2 separate regions of the Homo sapiens genome follow, and region 1 is linked to region 2. The links come from fine-mapping of genetic effects on gene expression. Tissue or cell type: atrial appendage. Region 2 holds a variant in brackets; the other region holds the start of a gene. All regions are shown on one strand. Distances are from middle to middle.

The links.
Region 1: it holds the start of ANGPTL1, and the variant in region 2 is fine-mapped to the expression of ANGPTL1 in atrial appendage (GTEx, PIP 0.96).

What each region holds. Positions count from the first base shown.
Region 1 is chr1:178,866,561-178,876,453 of GRCh38, reverse strand. It overlaps ANGPTL1 (angiopoietin like 1), which reads left to right and starts at 5,377. Exons shown (of 6, transcript NM_004673.4): 1 at 5,377-5,713; 2 at 7,231-7,340. The region is part of intron 8 of RALGPS2 (Ral GEF with PH domain and SH3 binding motif 2); the gene reads right to left.
Region 2 is chr1:178,927,742-178,937,634 of GRCh38, reverse strand. LOC102724754 (a long non-coding RNA gene) reads left to right here. Exons shown (of 3, transcript XR_426873.4): 3 at 657-736. Among named protein-coding and RNA genes, the nearest start is that of ANGPTL1, 62 kb to the right of the region's middle. The variant C/GCGC (reference allele first, on the strand shown) is at 5,315.

The sequences.
Region 1 (9,893 bases), 61 kb after region 2:
ACTGTCTAGTCTAATCCTCTCCTTTTATAGATGAAGAACCTGAAATACATAGATAGTAAAGGGACCTGTCTAATGCCATGCAACCTGTTAGTGACAGCTGGATCTCAGACGTTTCACTTATAGCCCAATTTAAAAAAAAATTACTTATATTCTATTAAAAAATCATACATTATGTGTGCTTACTATTCACTTAATGACTTTTATGACTTCAAAATCTCATTACTTATTTTTTTTACATTTATATCTTATCTATTCAAGACTGCAAACTCATTTAAGGCAGTTGCTCTATCTTGCACTCCAAGAGAAAGAAAATCTTGTGCAATGTTTTGACAATAGGTGCTTAACATAAAAGGTTGGCATGGCAATCTTTTTACTCATCCTAGTATCATTCATTTTCCACTCAGTAAATCTTTACAGTATTCTTTAAGTCACCTATCATACTTTTTTTTCTTTAGATAACCTCAACTTTATTTCCCTATGACTCCAAATGAATCTTGAGGTTCCAAATGAAGCTGAGGTTCTTCCCACTTTCCCCAATCTTGGAGGAAGAATCATCTCTCTCTTCTTCCGAAATCTCAACTGTAATTTTGAATGCAATCGTTGCTGCCTCCTTCCAGACAACCACTGTTGCCTCTACTATCATTCACCCCTACTGGCTCCTTCCCCAGAGCCAGTATACATATTTTTTTTTAAACCATTTTTTTTTTCAAGAAAGAGTCTTGCTCTGTCACAGGCTGGAATGCAGTGGTGCGATCTCGGCTCACTGCCACCTCTGCCTTCTGGGTTCAAGTGATTCTTGTGCCTCAGCCACCCGAATAGCTGAGATGACAGGCATGCGCAACCACGCCTGGGTAGTTCTTGCATTTTTAGTAGAGATGGGGTTTCACCATGTTGGCCAGGCTGGTCTCGAACTCCTGGTCTCAAGTGATCCACCCGCCTCAGCCTCCCAAAGTGCTAGGATTACAGGCATGAGCCACTGCACCTGGCCCAATATACATGTTTAAATCTCCCCTACTTATAAAACAAAATCTAAGCAACTCTTCCTTCAAATCTGATCCCACGCCTCAAGATAACATCCTTGTCCTCCCTTCAACAAACACCTTGGAAGAGAAACATACAATAGTACACTTCTTTTATTCTTCGTTCTATTTTTAATGTAATATTTGATACACATGTGTCAGGAAAATTGTGAAAAACTTTGAGATGGGAAAAAAGATTACTGGGTATCCTGTCTCCAGTGCACCCATTTGGTCCTTCTGAGCTATTTTACAACTCTGCACAGCTGTTGAAAACTGGTAATACAAATTATTGTCCATAAACATGCCAAAGAATTATGTCCAGTGGGATCTAATCAGTGATGACCAATTTTGCAACTATTTGTAAATTTACTTCAGCGTTCCTGATTGCATATATGTGTGTTACTTTGAATTCTCCCTTGACACATTTTTGATTCCCTTATAAATTTAATAATTTAAATGAAAATTCTGACACATATTCATTTCATATTTGTGTGAGAATCGTGATTTCACAAAAATTATTGCCGGGAACGGTGGCTCATGCCTGTAATCTCAGCACTTCGGGAGGCTGAGGCGGGCAGACTGCTTAGGAGTTTGAGACCAGTCTGGGCAACATGGTGAGACTCCTGCCCTAAGAAAAAATTATCAACACATGTGACACTTGTTGTTATCAAACAACATAATAAACATTTGTGAAAGACCAGTCAACTTATGACTACAACATCCCTAAGGAGAGCTAAAAGATTCCTCAAGGAAATGGCACGGGGATGTTGGCATATGTACATCAATAACAGCAATAGAAGATATAAAAAAGTAGCACAGAAAAGTTTAAACAGGAGTTTCATAAGAATTCTGTGCAAAAAAATGTCATTCCTTGCTGATGGGATCAGAGAAAGCTTCAAGGAAGAAGTGGGATTTGAGCGGGGTACTAATGTGCCAGTTCTTGCCATTCTTCCATCTTATTAAACTCAGATGACAACTCGCCTGTAGTCACTCGCTATACTGTGCTGTCCAATATAACCACTTGCCACATGTGACTACTGTTTCGTGGGTCTATTCTGAATTGAGGTGTATTTGAATATAAAATAGACAAGATTTTGAAGAGTTAACATGAAAAATTAATGTAAAATATCTATTAACTTTTTTATTGGTTACATGTTAATATTTTAATATGTTGGGGTAAACTACTTTAAAAAAGAACTACGACATCATCAATACTGTTGCATCTATCTGTATGTTCCTTCTCTACTTCATCTCCTTGCTTCCTGTCCAGAAGTAACCATTACCTTGAACTTTAAGATCATTCCCTTATTTTTTCCCCGACATTTGTCTGTATTCCTACTTTTGCCTATTTTTGAGCTTTAAAAATCATATTTTATTGTATGTGTGGATTAAATAATAGTATTTGTAATGTTAGAAAAGTGTCTAGTATGGGAGGCTGAGGCAGGAGAATGGCGAGAACCCAGGAGGCGGAGCTTGTAGTGAGCCGAGATCGTACCACTGCACTCCCGCTTGGGTGACAGAGCAAGACTCCGTCTCAAAAAAAAAGTGTCTAGTACATACCAAGTGATTTATAAGCATTTATTAAATAAAATTTAAAAATATGGTCTTCTGTGGTTGCTTCGTCTATTTTGTTTCTAAGACTTGTCCACGCTGTTAAATGCTGCTGTAATTCCTTATAATGAGAACAAGCTAATGTGTGACAATTGTAACTCATCCATTTTATTTGATAGACTTTTGAGTTACTCCCATCCCACCCCCAACCATGTTGCTATAGACATTCTTATACACATCTCCCAGTACACATGTACAAAATTTCTTCAGGATATACAAACATGCCTAGGAGCAAAACTGCCAAGTGCTAAAGTATATTAATATTCAACTTTACAAGATGGTGTCACATTATTTTTCAAAGCTGTATCAATTCATACTCCCACTCACGGTATATAAGCTTCTGTTGATCCACATTTGTGCTAACAATTGGTATTATCCATCTCAATTTTGCCAATCTTCTGAGTATAAAATGGTATCTCTCTGTGTCTTAATTTTTATTTCCTTGATTAGTAATAAGGTTAAACGTATATATTTCTATGTAATAAATGTTTCTGTTCATTTTTTCTTTTGGGTTGTCTTTTTCTTATGGATTTCTAATTTCTTAATGTATTGTGGACACTAATTTGTCAGTTAAATTTTATCTAGTCACCCTTCAACACACTAAATAATCTGAAATCTGTATGTATCACTTATTTTGGCAATGGCATTAATAACTTTCTCATTCTAAGTCTTAAAACATCTCTCTTGGTCTCCCCTCCCTATGTAATGTCTCTGCAGTATTGTAACCATTCTCGTCTAGTTCTCAGGTTTTCCCTACCTTGAACTTTCGTATCTTCCCCCTAAGCCCCCACCATTCTTCTTTTTCCTCATGTTTCTTGTAAGCTGGTTTCCTGGAAATTGGTATCATGGTCTGTCATTAACCTTCCTTTACATTCTACATGTACTTTCTCTAGTATCTTAGTTCCATAGCTTTAGCTACTACCTAATTGCTGGTGACTTTCAAATCTCTCCATATAACTGAGCTCCTGACTTTCATTTTCAATTTAACATATCTAACCATAATCTGTCCCTAAATACCTGTCATTCCAATTTCCTACCCTGGCTAGTGATATTACTAAGTGCTCAAGTTAGAAAGCTCCAAACTGCTGAAAGTTTAAAAGCTCAGAAAGAATTTATTATCTCTTATTTTTCCCAGATTTAAGCCATTAGTGACTACAACATAATTACTGAATGCTCAAGAAACGATACATAATACAAATCAGAGGCCAGAAGCTGGCAGCACATCTGTCCCAATGTTTTTTAAAATCAGGAAGTATTACAGGAAAAATCTAAATGGCTCTTTTTTCCTGAATAATGGGAAGATCTGGCAACACTGTCTCATAATCCTTCATGGCCACAAGCACAGCTGAGAAGGTGCAGGCAGATCCCTTTAAATTAACCAAAAGGATGCCAACTTGCCATAAACTTCATTTCCCTCCAGTATCTTACTACTGATTTACTTCACTGATTTATATTACCTGCTCCATTCTTCTTGTGAGCATTTGCCTTTCTAGGCCCTTGTGTTTGCAACCTCTGGTATACCTATATATGGCATAGGAATTCAAATAAATGATTCTGTGAAAGAGGTAGAAAATAAGCTCAGACTTTAAATAAAGGATGTGGATCAACAGTGTGGCCTAACAGAAAGAGAAACACAGCACAAGCTACAGCAATAAGGAAGGGAAAGCACAGGTATGTAGAGAAAGCCCAAAAGTTTTATCTAGAAGCAGCTTACAGCAACTAGGTAATCAATGACAGAGAGTGTGGCATAATGCTTTGGCATTAGATTCAAATCCCAGTTCCACTACTTAGTACTTAAGTGCTAAGCTAAGTTACTTAAGCCTAAGTTTGTGTTTCTTCAGCTACTGAGTTATTTAACATTTCTTCAATTAATGAAATACAATAGTATAGTTGTACTCAACACTTATTCATTTCTTCCACCACCTTATTTCATAGCAGAAGAACCTTGCCAGAGGCAGGTAAAGTGATTTGTCTAAGTTCACATAGCTGGCATAGAGTCAGAGCTTCCTTGTTTTTTACTCAGTTCAGGGTTATGTTTGTTTTTAAACCACACCACATCAATTAATAACAAGAATGACCTTTTACAGAGAGGAGAGGTCATTTTGTAGAATAGGAGGATATGACATTATGTAACACCAGAATGTAATATTTAAAAGTCTTAAGCATCTGAAAGAATTTCACTTATGTTTGGTAATTATATATAAAGGCTGTTTTATCTTAAGACACATTACACAGTAAGACATAACATACTACAACAACATCAAGTTTCTTGTAAGTTTAAAACCTTCATTAGCAACTTAGTAAAATGTTTACAAATTCTTCTAGGCTATAAAGAGTATTTATTACATTATTTAGGTGGCTGCCTCCTGACAAAGTCTAGCTCTTGTTCTTTGTTAACAAAAACCAAACTCATCAGCCTGCAACTACTTCTAAGTGAAGTGGAGCACTATTTTTTTTTTCGGTATTCAACTTAAAAGATCTCTGGCCAGCAGACTAAAATGTTTGTTTTATAATTGCCCGCTGAACTATGATAGTTTGTTTCCAGATGGTGCCCTTCCTTCAACCTGCACACAATCTCTCCTTGTTCAAAACTATTCAACCTCCTGCTGATCCCACCCCCCTATTTAAGGCTACAAAGAGGAAATCCTAAGGAGATTCCCGCCCCCAGTCTCCAGCAATTTTTGGTGATGTAATATGTGGGCTGAACTTGAGTCTACTGAGAAAGAGGGAATCACTATTCAGGGGTACTGTATATACAATCTGGGTCAGCTGCAGCTGGTTACTGCATTTCTCCATGTGGCAGACAGAGCAAAGCCACAACGCTTTCTCTGCTGGATTAAAGACGGCCCACAGACCAGAACTTCCACTATACTACTTAAAATTACATAGGTGGCTTGTCAAATTCAATTGATTAGTATTGTAAAAGGAAAAAGAAGTTCCTTCTTACAGCTTGGATTCAACGGTCCAAAACAAAAATGCAGCTGCCATTAAAGTCACAGATGAACAAACTTCTACACTGATTTTTAAAATCAAGAATAAGGGCAGCAAGTTTCTGGATTCACTGAATCAACAGACACAAAAAGGTATTTAATATTTCTTTTATTTAAAAATATTATGTATAGCAAATGCATAACTATTTTATATTTGTAGTAGAAATTTCAGAATCTTTTACTAAACAAAGACCTTTGGAATATACTACAGTTTATCTCATCTGAAAAAGGTTTTATCTTGCAACTTGACATAAAAACATTAAGTACTGTGCAATGGTTAATGCATTATTTGAGGTTCAATTTAATGATGTTTAGTGTATATGATTACAGACTGATACATGCATGCCATGCTGGGTTTCTGAAAACAAGTGCTTTAGTGACAGTAGAAAGAAATTTTAACAAGTAACAGATTAAATGTATAAGGCTTACAGCACAATGATTAAAAACAAAGGAATACAAACTAAATAGTCGTGAACACAATTAGTTTCTCTTCCTGCAGCCACAGTGTGTGTGCTGAAGATATACATAAACTGTTGGATTTCTCAGTGTAGTCATAAAACAAAGCTAAGATACAAAAATAGTTGAAAGTCTTTGCAACAAAATCTCAATTACAGTATAACCAAATATTAAGCAGAAATTCTTGTACAGATTTAAGATTAATCTATGGCATTTCTTGTTCCAACTCAAAATTTTAAATAGCTTTCCAGGCTTACATGTAATAGTAATTTAATTTGGATGACAGAAATTAAACTTGCTACAAATGGAATCACTTGGAAAAGCTAAGTTATTGATATACACACAAAAGCATTATGTAAGTGGTATTAACAATAGAAAATAAGAACCCAGAAGATGTAATTAAATTCATGACTAAAAGGCCAAAAATATGTAATATTTTAGGTAGAAATAATTTTGTTAAGCACACATAAGAGGTTTCCTTCAATATTCTATCTGGGAGCTTTTTTTACATGCATTATAAAAACTATTAAAGATAAAATTACTCGTTACCAATAGTATGCCTTAAACCAAAGACACTTAAGTTTGTTAGATTTGGGGCTCCTTTAGCCTTGTAAAAATTAAAGATATTAATGGTTAAGAATCTTGAACAAGCAAATAATGGTAAAGCTAAAATTTTTTCCAACTTTGCTTTTGTGTCCTTTCCTTAAAGATTTAAAACTGTAAATGCTGGCAGGATTTCTGTTAAACACATATTTTACAAGAAATTCTAACAAAATTTCCAAGCAACAGTGGATCTGAAATACTGTCATCTCTCTTTTTTGTTGTTGCATGCTATGGGAAGTGCAGGACTTCATTAAGCCTCAGTTCTTACTGACGCTGTCTTAAGGCAGGCATTTAATCTGAACCCCAAATTACACAGATAACTATTTATCCTTTTCTTAAATATATCCAGGGGATTAGATTGTTCTCAAGTCTCTTCCCAGAACATATTTCACAATCTAGAAATTCTTTATCTAACATATCCTGAATGCTTCATAAATTTAACTTCATTGCCTCATGCTGTTTTCAGTGCATGACACAGCCAGTTAAATGCCTCTGTGAGTTTACCATCTGAAAGGAGGCAAATCCTGACTTTCGTTTCTTCTCTCTACTAGCTGGCAATATAGCAACTATGAAGAGAAAAGCTACTAATAAAATTAACCCAACGCATAGAAGACTTTTTTTTCTCTTCTAAAAACAACTAAGTAAAGACTTAAATTTAAACGTAAGTATTCTATAACTAATTTATAACATTCTCTTGGGGCCTAGGAAAATTTTAACATATACAGAAAGTTTTATGAGGTAACATAGATTTATGGATCTTTTGCTTCAAAACTGAACATATGTGAGAAAATATTAAATAAGAGAATGTTTTCAGAAAACATAACAGTAAATGTATTTTTAAAACCAGTTCTTTACTCCTGACGTAGCTAGTCTACTACTTAAGAAATGTGGCTCCTTGCCCTGCTTTAAGTGACAGTGAAGCCAATACTTTTGTATTTATTAAAAAAAAATTATATTTATTTAAAAACTAAACTTTTAGTTGCCTCCTTTAAATGCTAATTTAGACCACTTTCTCTTATGGTAAACAGTGATTTATCTTATGATTTAATCTTATAGGAACCACAATGAGCCAAGGCAGAATACACACAAGGAAGCTGTTTTTGTTTTAATTTAGATTAGCATTTTGGTGTTTTTTGTTCTTCAATGACAACACTGATGCAAAGTCCTAACAGCAGTCTTGGATGATGCGCTTTTAGCTGTTTTATAAAAATCTGTGTCTGGTATTAATACAAGCTGTTCAATCAGAATATTGCTCATAAAATTCTATTTGTTTTAGAGTTTTATATTACTTCCTGCATTTTCCTTGTTTTGGTAGTTTATTTCATAGTAAATATTATTTAAGTAAAATAATTTTATGATCTCAGAGTTTCCATTCTAGTATTAAAATGAATGGACTTTAGCAGTGGTAAGTTAAATTAAATATATAGGAAAAATGATATGCATGTGCCCAGGAGGATGATGGCTTTTATTTCTTGTCCCTAGTTTTTAAAATAACCCATATCTAAATTCCACGAATCTGGAGATATAATAAATGTTTTATTGGTTTTTGGTATAGGTAACTCCTACATAGTAAAAGTCTATTTTTAAAAATAAAATAGATGACTGTTTCTAAATTTTCTATATATGTCAGAAAGCAAGGTATGAAAACATAAAAAGCTAAAAAAAATACCCATGTGTGCTTTGGCTATCAGTCAGCAAAAGAAGGCCTCGATAGAAATACAGATTGTTATGTCCTCCCTATCTTTTGTTTTCATTCCCTCTCTTGTTAGTAAAATAATAATAATTCTCCATACTCCATCTATATTTGCCTTATTTTCATTATCTACCCATTTTGAAGACACTATTCAATTGAAAAATACCAAAAAAGGAACATGGTTTTAGAAAGTGAAAGTAGCAGTAGTCTTCATGACGACAGCATAAGAGTTATATTTCATTGACATGACCTTTGTTTTCGGGAGGGGTCCATAATCATAGGTTAGATATATAACTATCAGCTGACAGAATACATACAGAAGGAAAGAAATTGCCGCAGAAGAGTCTGAGATGTAAAAAAATGATCTGGCAGAACGTGGACACAAATTCTACCAAAAATTATCCATAAATACTTTTGCATAATTAAGTAACCGGTCAATGAAAAGGGACATAAACCAGGAAAAGGCAGCGAAAAACAAGAAACATAAACTTAAGACTCCTCTGTGGTTATGACATGACTAGGGTAAAAATCATAGGTCTAGAAAAGTTAGGAGTAGAAGGTTTGAATCCCATTTGAGTGATTTAGCTTCTCAAGGATTTTCCTCCTTTATAAAATGATACAGCATTACTTCAGTGTTATAAATGCAAATAGTTAACATGTGTTAAGCTACATAAATACAGGGGATTGAAAACATGAACTCTGAAGTCTTCAGCCTGGATTCAAATTCTCGCTCCATCACTATGAACCTGTGTGACTCTTGATAATAAGGTACTTAACTTTTGGATGCCAAGTTTTCCATCTGAAAGTGGGGATCATAATAATCTACTTCATAGGGTTGTGGTGATAAGTAAAACATGAAAATGGCTTAAAACAGTGCCTAACACTGAACAAGCACTCAATAAATATTAATTACTGTTATTGTGTTGTTATTAACAACAGGCATAAACAACTTAGGAGCTGGTTTCTTAAATCAAGAAACAGGTACTTATGTGGAAATTTGGACAGAAAAGCTCTGTCTTAGGGTATCCACTGCCATCCTTCAAAAATGGCAGATAGGTATGAAGTTCGCAAGAGTGAAAAGGTGGCCTGTAATAGACCAGCTCGTTAGTAGATCTGACAGAGTGAACATACCTTACCCATTCTACTTCTGCTACTCTTGTGGGAGGTAACTAGAGAGAAAGGAAAAAGTCTTGGCTCTTGAAACTGTTTCCTCAGAAGAATTTGTACTATAAAGAAGTATTTCTCATCTGCTACAGCAAAAACGAAACATTCTAAGCACATATTTTAGTATAGGTGCTGCTTCTATAAATACTGACTATGGGTCAGAGAATCCGATCTAGACCTGGTTCTAATCCTTGTGTGGCCTTAGCCTTCAACATGCACAGAGTACAAAGAGGTTCTTGAATGACAGGGTCTCTAAGGCATTTCCAACTCTGACATTCATATTCAATTACAGACAAGTTTCTTTCCTTGGTAATGGTTGTAGAAAATTACTAACATTTTACTAAAATACAGTTCAGT
Region 2 (9,893 bases):
CTGGTCTCATCTCTAATTGCGGCCTCAAAAGACCCTGGACAATCCTCAGTAAAATCATGTCCCAAGATTTAGTTACATTAATTTTCTTTACTCTGTACTTGAAACTCATTTAATAAGCTGGTTAGAAAACAAACTTTCTGTACCACCTTTTGTTTGGGCCCCCAAAACCAAAATGGTTGTATGTGTACTGAAAACTATCTACGGTTGGCCAGGCGCGGTGGCTCACGCCTGTAATCCCAGCACTTTGGGAGGCCGAGGCGGGTGGATCATGAGGTCAGGAGATCGAGACCATCCTGGCTAACAAGGTGAAACCCCGTCTCTACTAAAAATACAAAAAATTAGCCAGGCGCGGTGGCGGGCGCCTGTAGTCCCAGCTACTCGGGAGGCTGAGGCAGGAGAATGGCGTGAACCCGGGAAGCAGAGCTTGCAGTGAGCCGAGATTGCGCCACTGCAGTCCGCAGTCCGGCCTGGGCGACAGAGCGAGACTCCGTCTCAAAAAAAAAAAAAAAAAAAAAAAAAGAAAACTATCTACAGTTTCTCCACTTAATAGAAAATATCTGGTATAGCAGAACCTGGTGGGCATTTGCTATGGACTGAATGTGCCCCTGCCATTCATATACTGAAGCCCTAACCCCCAGTGTGATGGTATTTATTAGGAGGTGGTGCCTCTGGCAGATTTAAATGAGAGCATGAAGGTGGGACCTCCATTACTGGATTAGTGTCCTTATAAGAAGAGGAAGAGACCAGAGCTCACTCTCCCCACCACGTGAGGATACAGTGAGAAGGTGGCTGTCTGCAAGCCAAGAGCCCTCACCCAAACAGAATCTGCTGGTATCTTGATGTTGGATTTTCTAGCCTCCAGGACTGTGAGAAATAAATGTGTGTTGTTTAAACCACCCAGTCTATGGTATTTTGTTATAGTAGCTAGGGCTGACTACAACTGAAGTAGGCTAGAAGGAACTCTGTTATCATGAGCTCCAGGGATGAGCTGTCTATACACTTGTGCTGCATCAGACATGAAAGAGGAGTGGTGTGAGACTTGCTTTTCTGTGCATCCTGTTTCAGAGCAATATAAATTCAGTTCCTCTTATCTTCCAGAATCTTCTAGCACTTCTGGAATCTATAACATATGTCTGTATGGATAATAGCACCTCTGGAATTTGGGGACAAGGTCAAAGGGTGTCGGGATTTGAAGGGGAAGCCATAAGAATCTTCACAATATAAATTGAGATTAAACACTTGCAGATGCAACCCATCCTTGGGGTGGTTTTGCAAACATATTGCTGAGGATTTCATGGTTTGCTACATCAAGATTAGATACCCAAAGTTTATTGGAAGATTAAATTACAAAAAGTAATGACAAGGTAAGTTGTAATAAGTCATGTTATTTGATGAGAAGTAAAGATAATTAAAGGCATGAAAGAGTCTGTAAGGAGCCTAGAAGAAGAGAGGTGAAGAGTAAGAATCTAGCTAGTGTTTCCCCAGGGGTGTCAGGGAATGGCAAAAATGTTCCAGACTGTACCAACGATCTGAGCCACACACTCCTGAAGACTTCTTTTACCCTGATTCCTGTTTAACAAGTAGTTTTCTAAATGCTAATTCAGTTTTTCTGGTACACAGCAGAAAGGGGTCCCCTGCATAGTAATTAGAAAGGTGTGTCTCTGATGGTACATTACTTCAACTGGCATGCTGGTTTTCCCGTCAGTCTACTATGGGAGTTTGGTTGGCAAGAGTCCATTCCTTGAGGCCTGGTCAACGTTGTGTGGGCTGATTACAACATGGGGTTTCTGAAACTTAAAAGTTAAGGGCCCGATCTGGACCCAGGCCTCTACCAAGCCACAGATGACCTTTGAGGCTCCGCTTGATCAGGCAGCCAGCCATGGAACATCATCATGTGGCAACTCCACACCCACAGCTATCATGGCTCCCACTTGCGGACACATTACTTTGTATGTATTTTGTCTTTCTTAAACAACTCCTTGCTCCCATTTCTTCTCCCTCAAATTGTGAGATTTTCTGCTGCAGGGCCTTGTCTCTCCTCTTTCATACATTAAATGTGTAAGATCTTGACCACAGGGACACTCAATATATTGAATGACTTTGTTGGCAAAGATATTTGAAAAGATGATAGGTGCAAATATAATTTATTTATCTTCTTTGGAATCCAGCTGTAAAATACATAGTTAAAATAGAAGCTAAAATGTTCTGTTGTTTGATCTTCAGCTTCTGTCTAAATTGAATTGACTCTCCATCCCATCCTACTTCCTTAGAGACAGACAAGAAACTCCTGTCACCATGCTTTTCTGTACTCTGTCCTACGACTTTGCTTCCATTTAATTTGTCCTCTACTTGTCATTAAGATGTTATTTGGGGCTGATTAGAGTTTGCACCTGTTTCAGTTTATTCCCAATTATATAGTTATAGGTAATCATTATAGCCAGCCACCATTATGGAACTACAAACCTCTCAATCATCCTATTACAGAAAATTTGCTGAATTGGAAAGTCATGGTAACAGGCCAGGCATGGTGGCACACACCTGTAGTCCCTGCACTCGAGTGGCTGAGGCAAGAGGATTACTTGAGCCTAGGAGTTCATGTCTGTAGTAAGCTACAATTGTGCCTGTGAATAGCCATGGCACTCCAGGTGGTGCAACACAGTGAGGCCTCGTCTCCTAAAAAACACATTGAAAAAGGAAACTCATAGGAACAGCAGCAGTAGGCTTACCATGTGGCCTCAGCAGCCCTGGGAGGAGGAGAGTATGCAGGAAATAAGGAGCTTCAGCGAGGGGCACCAAGAGGCAGAATGTTGGTTGCAGTGATGACTAGATGTGTGAGTTTGGGTAAGGCCCTTCAATCAAGACTATTTCCTTACTTACAACAGTGCAGATAACAATCCCTATCTCATAGGACTGGTGTGAGGGTTACATAACATGACACGTGTCAAAGCCACAGCACATTGTCGTTAAATGTCAGTTCCTCCTCTCTTTCTATGTCCAAGACATACAGGGATGGGATGAGGGAGCTCTTGTGTGAAGGCCCTTCCAGTATTCCCAGGACTTGACCTCTATGGAAGGGGTCCAAAAGCATCCTAAATTCCTATCCAGGGGCTCTGCTATAGCTTGGCTCCAAGACATCATGGCATAAACACAAAAAGGAAGAAAAGTCTGTCTGTACAACTTATAGAATAAGAAACTATGAAGTCATGCTTCACTGTCAGAATGAAACAACTTCTGGCTCTTTTGTTAGGAAGTTGCTTATGTCCAACTTACCTGACAAGGAGCCCCAGAGAGAGACCACAGTTCAAACTTGCTTGATTTCACCTTCAGCTGTCTGCTAGTGTCTAACATTTCATAGAGAGAGACGAGAATAGCCACTCTCAATAATGGGTCCCAGCTGACCAAGGGTGCAGAATATTTATGCTGGCGGTTCCCATCTGCTGAGCGGTTACAAGCGCCAGGCCCTGTGCTTTGCATCTTCCACGCATGACCTTATTCAACCTCACAATAAACTTAGGAAGGAGGAGCTTTCTCATGCTGTTTTTGCAGATGAGGAAATACACTTGGGAGGGTAAGTGTGGTGGACAGGAAGAGTTGAGTGATGTGGGCAATTGAACATGGAGGGATAGGGGGCCAGAGTCCCACTCTTCTCCAAGAAGGGTGCCGGGTCATCAGGGAGGGCCAATGCATCCACTGGCAGATCAGTTAATCAGCATTACTAGTCCCAGAGCCTAGCAGAGGGCAGGGCTCCTGGGCACAGGAGACAGAGGAGCCTTCATCCTTCAAAATGCCTCTCAATTGTTTCCTACCTGTGCTCCCACTTTGGGACAGACCCTTGCTCTCTCTCTCCTGGAGAACAGCTGTTTCCTGCCTGGTCTCCCAGCTTCCATTCTCCAATTCCTCCTTCTGGCACTTAAAATCCTGAGCAATTTGGCTCCAACCTACTTTTCCAACTTTATGTGTTGCCACTTCTCAGTGTGAGCTCTTCCCAGCCTCAACTGTATATTTCCAGCTCTTGCTTGCAATTCTTCTCCCCTGGTCCTAAATCCTACCCACCCATGGACTCTCCTCTTCCACGTGGCCTTCCCTGGCCTCTCAGGGCCACAGTGTTTCTCCTGAATACGAAGAACTTTCTTAGTCTAGCATGGGCATCCAGCACATTTATGCAATTCAGGATTGCTTGTGTTAACCACTCTGTTTTGTGTCTGTAGTGAGGCTGTAAAACTCCAGGGACCACATGCAGCACAGTGCAAGGCCTACTGGGAGGCTCTGTCCCGGGAACAGACATTGGAAAAAAAAAAAGGTTATATTTACATGTTGACAGCACATGGATTTCTTCAGCTGAAAACTGTCATTAGCAAGGAAAATTAAAGTAGGAAGCTTGTTCTTTCTTTGAGTTTCATAATAAATCACAAAGTCATTTGCGGAGCTTTTGTGCTGCAGGTTCTGGGCACCAAAACTGCAAGTTACAGCTCTGAAAGCCAGTGTCCACCAGGGCCGAGAATCAGACCAGAGTTTGAATCCTGGCTCCACCTCCTTACTGGGTGACTGTAGGCAAGTTCTTCAACCTCTCCAAATTTTCTGGTTGTAATTCAAGAAGAAGTATCTCTACTATACAGGGTTGTTAAGAAAGAATAAATTAGATAACAATGTATAAAATAAGCTTAGAACCACAACATCAGAACCAATGACTATATGATGAATCAAACTGACTTACTTTCACAAAATGCGTTGGGAACTTAGAATGGTATCGGTAGGAAAGTAGTGAGGACCTGAGGTGGGGTGAACAGGAAAACAGCTGCTCAGTTGCCTTTGCTTAGGATGAGTTTGTGCTCCGGGCGCAGGGATTAGGTGATGAGGAGGTAGTTGCCACTGGACAGGGAAATGTGTTGCTTCTTCCCAGCGACCTCAGGGGACACTCTCCTCACTGACTGTGAGATCCCCTTGGTCAGGGACTGCCTCCCCTTCCCCAGAACCTAGCACAGAGCAGGAGTTCAGCACATACTGGTTTTCATTGAACATTCCCAAGTACTTACTTTCCAAGAATAAAAGAAGCAGTTCTTTCTAGACTTACTTGCTAAGCAAAAAATGGATAATTAAGATGTTGCAAGAAAGTCGCTGGCAAAAGTCCAAGGAGCTGCTTTTCTTAAACCCTGCACGGAGGTGCAGGGGGTGACATATTTTGACAGCTATGACATAGCTCAGGGCAGATGGAAGAACAACAAGTACAAAAGAGAACTTGATTTTGGCTTTGGCCAAAGAGAACTTTTGACTTTGTTTGGCAACTGTTTACTGGATACCATAGTAGCATGCCTTG[C/GCGC]CCTAGTGTGGTGTGAGAGCTGCCCCTCAGCCAGTGATGGAGAATGAAAATACTTGAGAGTAAAAGCCTAATTATTTAAAAATACATCAAAACAAAAGCAAAGAGGGAAACAATCTGGCTTCAACGTTTATGAGAGTCCAGAGTCTCTGAAGAAGCTGGTCCTGTTAAGGAATGGAAGACAGGGCCCCAAGGGAGCTGAGGGCGTGGCTGCTTCCCCAGGGCCTGCTGTGGGGGCCAAACTGACCCTGAGAGGCAGTGTGTCAGCTTCACAGCTGACTTGAGAACCAGCGGGGCCCTGGGTCTGGTTTACCACAATAAAGGAACAAAATGTTCCCTTTCTAGCAGAGCCGCTGCTGGTGGGGTTCGGGACAGAGGCGGGTCAGGGCCCTCCGAGATGTAAGGACACTGCTTTGCTTTGCCAGTGAACTCTGGTTTGGTTTGGGGGTATTTCATCTTTAAGGACTGTGAAGGTCCCATTTGTTCCCTGCTTTAATAAAAAATAACACAAGAAATAGGTGTTTCTCTCCCTTATTTTGAGACCACTAATCAATACCATCTGATCATAGTTTTAAAAATTAATAAATTGGGCTACACAAGCAGAAATCTATTTTTTAAGCTATATTATTTCTTACCAGCACATGTAAAATTCTTAAAGGTGGCTGATGTTTTTCCCCCTTTCTTCTTCCTCTTTTTCCCTCCTTCTTTCCTCCCTCCCTCTCCTCTCTTTTTTCTCCTTTCTCTCCTTTTTTCTTCTTCCCTATCTTTCTCCCATTTTTCTTTTTTCTTTCTTAAAAGTCCAGAAGTAAGGCTCTTGTAGGGTTAGTTCAGTAGCACAAGAAAATCATTATGGGGCTAGGTTCTTTCCATCTTTCCCTTCTGTTCTCTGAGGACCAGCTTTGCTCAAGGGCCAGCCTTTATCTTGGTCATAAGATGGGATGCCCAGTTCTAGGCATCACATGACAACACCTGAGTTGGTAAAGAAACATCAGTCAAAAGACTATAGGGGCCGGGTGCGGTGGCCCATGCCTGTCATCCCAGCACTTCGGGAGGCTGAGGCGGGTGGATCATCTGAGCTCAGGAGTTCGAGACCAGCCTGACCAACATGGTGAAACCTCGTCTCTACTAAAAATACAAAAATTAGCCAGGTGTGGTGCTGCATGCCTGTAATCTCAGCTACTCAGGATGCTGAGGCAGAAGAATCACTTGAACCCGGGAGGTGGAGGTTGCAGTGAGCTGCGATCGTGCCATTGCACTCCAGCCTGGTCAACAAGAGTGAAAAAAAAAAAAAAAAAGAAGGCTATAGTGAGTGGTGGGGACTGTAGTGAACTGGAGAGGAAATGGCCCTATTTAACACATTCAAATACAAAACCATTTTTTCTTTTTGTAGTTTCAAAATATTTTGTTATTGTTAGGGAGGGGGAAAGGGAATTATGGATGTTTTCAAATAATCCTTTTGCGAGTAACTACACTGTTGCAAGCAGTCAAAACACTGTTAATGTTCCAATTTTGCAGAAGTCAGCATGGAACTTCAGGGGAGGTTAGGTGATCTGCCCCAGATGGAACTGTTACAGGAAAGGGGTCCTGATCCAGACCCCAAGAGAGGGCCCTTGGATCTTGTGCAATAAAGAATGCAGGGCCAGTCCACAGAGTAAAGTGAAAGCAAGTTTACTAAGAAAGTAGAGGAATAAAGAATGGCTACTCCATAGACAGAGCAGCCCCGAGGGCTGCTGGTTGCCCATTTTTATGGTTATTTCTTGATGATATGCTAAACAAGGGGTGGATTATTCGTTATTCATGCCTCCCCTTTTTAGACCATATAGAGTAACTTCCTAACATTGCCATGGCATTTGTAAGCTCCCATGGCGCTGGTGGGAGTGTAGCAGTGCGGATGACCAAAGGTCACTCTCATGGCCATCTTGCTTTTGGTGGGTCTTGGCTGGCTTCTTTACTACAACCTGTTTTACAAGCAAGGTCTTTATGGCCTGTATCTTGTGCCGACTCCCTATCTCATCCTGTGATTTAGAATGCCTTAACCATCTGGGAATGCAGATGACCAGTAGGTCTCATTTTACCCAGCCCCTACTCAAGATGGAGTTGCTCTGGTTCAAACACCTCTGACAGAATGGGAGTAAAGGCATTGTCAGCCCCAGGCTCTCTCTGCTGCTTCATGGCTGCTCAGAAAACTTGCTGCTGCCCAGGTGTGAGCTCTACCTCCTTTGCAAGATCCTGAGCTTCCTAAGGGTTGGGTGGTGTCTTCTTTTGTGCCCTCCCATCCCCCAACTCATATAATCATGATATCGAAGGGACCCCATTCACATTCACGCAGAGCTCAGGATGGATCCTCTGATGCTTCCCTTTCTAATCCAATTTTTAATTTATGTGTTTTAATAAGTCCTCCAGGGATTCTGTTGCCCTCTAAAGTTTGAGGACCACTGTTCAAAAGTCTCTGTAATGCTTATAGACCAACAATCTAAATATTGGTTCTCAACCTGAGCTAGATATTCAGGTCACCTGGGGGAGCTTTCAAAAATTGTTAATGCCTGGATCCTAGCCTGGCCTCCCACCCACAGATTCTGATAGAATTGGTCTGGTGTGCAGCCTGAGAACTGGGACTTTTAAAAACTCGCTAGGTGATTCTAAATTGCAGCCAAACTTAAGAACCACTGATCTAAATAAAATATGAAGGGAGACAACTGCACTGTAAACAAATGAAAGATTAAGTGGAAATCCAAAAGTGAGATGCACACTGACAAAAAATGAAAAAAAAAAGGCTAACATGAAAGATTAAACTCTAACAATAGAAGTATAAGGGAAGAGAGATTATTTGGTTTAGGCACTACTGGAGGTATTTCTCTTCCATATTTAAAGGAGCCTGGAAAGCTCATGACTGCCTTCAGGAACAGGTGTATGTACTGATGGTTTCTAAATTGCTGTGGATTAGTGTTACTGGAAAAATCCTCTTTACTGCTTCAAAATGCACAGCTCAGTATGTTATGAAACACTCTCATCATTTGATATGTTCTCCTAACTGTCCTTTTCCCTTTTCTGTGAGTTCAGAGAGAGGGAGTGGGTAAAATAAGCTTGTGCTGTAACAGGGAACCTCATGTCACTTTCAAACAATAGTAAGATGTGCCCCTGGGAAAGTCCCATGACTGCAGAAGCCCTCCTGCTACCAGGCAGCTCAAATAACAAAGGGCACTCGGAGACTACTTTAACCAATATGAACACAGAATAAAAGGCTCCTTTTAGAGAAGGAAAAACAGAGAGACAGAAATGAGTTTTCCTTTAAGAGGGGAATCAGTTTTAAGTAAAAGCAAGGAAGCACATAGAATTTGTTACTCAAGTGCAGTACAGTATTTTGATTTGGAATGAGACAGAACTTCATTAACTGTACCCTAGCAAGTTAGTCTAGAATCAGAGGTCTCAATTCAAATTGCACCAGGCCATATTTGGATATTTTCTTAGGCTAATTCAAAGATCCAGGGAGATACAATCACCCTCAAAAGTGTAGTCATTTCTCTTTTAAAATGGAAATACTAACCCCATGCTTTTGTGGTTAAAATTTGTTAAAACATGATTTAGGTTACATAAAGTCATAAAACATGGCTACTAGAAGGCTTAACGGCTGGCAGGGGGTTCATTGATTGCACCTATTGTTAATTGTTCACGAATCTCCAGGTTTTTCTTCTAACTCAATTAAAAAATTTCCACTTTTCACATTAAAATCTCAGAATAGTTTCTGGCAATAAAAATGACGACTTGCTTGTCTGTCTTTCTCCCACAACAGCTTAACACAGATGCCAATGGTTTCTGAAAAGCTTGGGTCTGACAATCAGGCAATAATAAAGCAAATTCAGCAACTGTTACTTCTAGTTTAACTTGGGCTGTGGGCAAATCAGGTGCACATTTTAGTGTGCAGCAGACTCTGGCCTCAGATTCTGATTTGGCTGGTGGGGTGGCATTCAGAAGTCTGCATTTTATACAAGGGCCTCCAGCAATCTAACCCATGTGGCTGAAATACTCCTCTTAATAATCAACAATAGGCTGGGCGCAGTGGCTCATGTGTGTAATCCTGGCACTTTGGAAGGCCAAGGCGGGAGGATCACTTGAGGCCAAGATCAGTCTGGACAACATGGCAACTCCCTGTCTCTATAAAAACAAAACAAAACAAGGCCATTGTGGTGGCTCATGCCTGTACTCCAACACTTTGGGAGGTCAAGGTGGGCGGATCGCTTGAGGCCAGGAGTTTGAGACCAGTCTGGCCAACATGGTGAAACCCTGTCTTTACTAAAAATGCAAAAATTAGCTGGGCATGGTAGTGTGCACCTGTAATCCCAGCTACTCGGGAGGCCGAGGCATGAGAATCTCTTGAACCTGGGAGATGGAGGTTTCAGTGAGCCAAGATAGTGCCACGGCAGTGCAGCCTGGGTGACAGAGCGAGACTCTGTCTCAAAACAAAAACCCAAACCAACCACCCCCCCCCCAAAAACCCCAAACAATAATAAATGCGAATTGTTTCTTTTTTTAGACTCACTCGTCCCAGGCTGGAGTACAAAGGTGCCATCTTGGCTCACTGCAA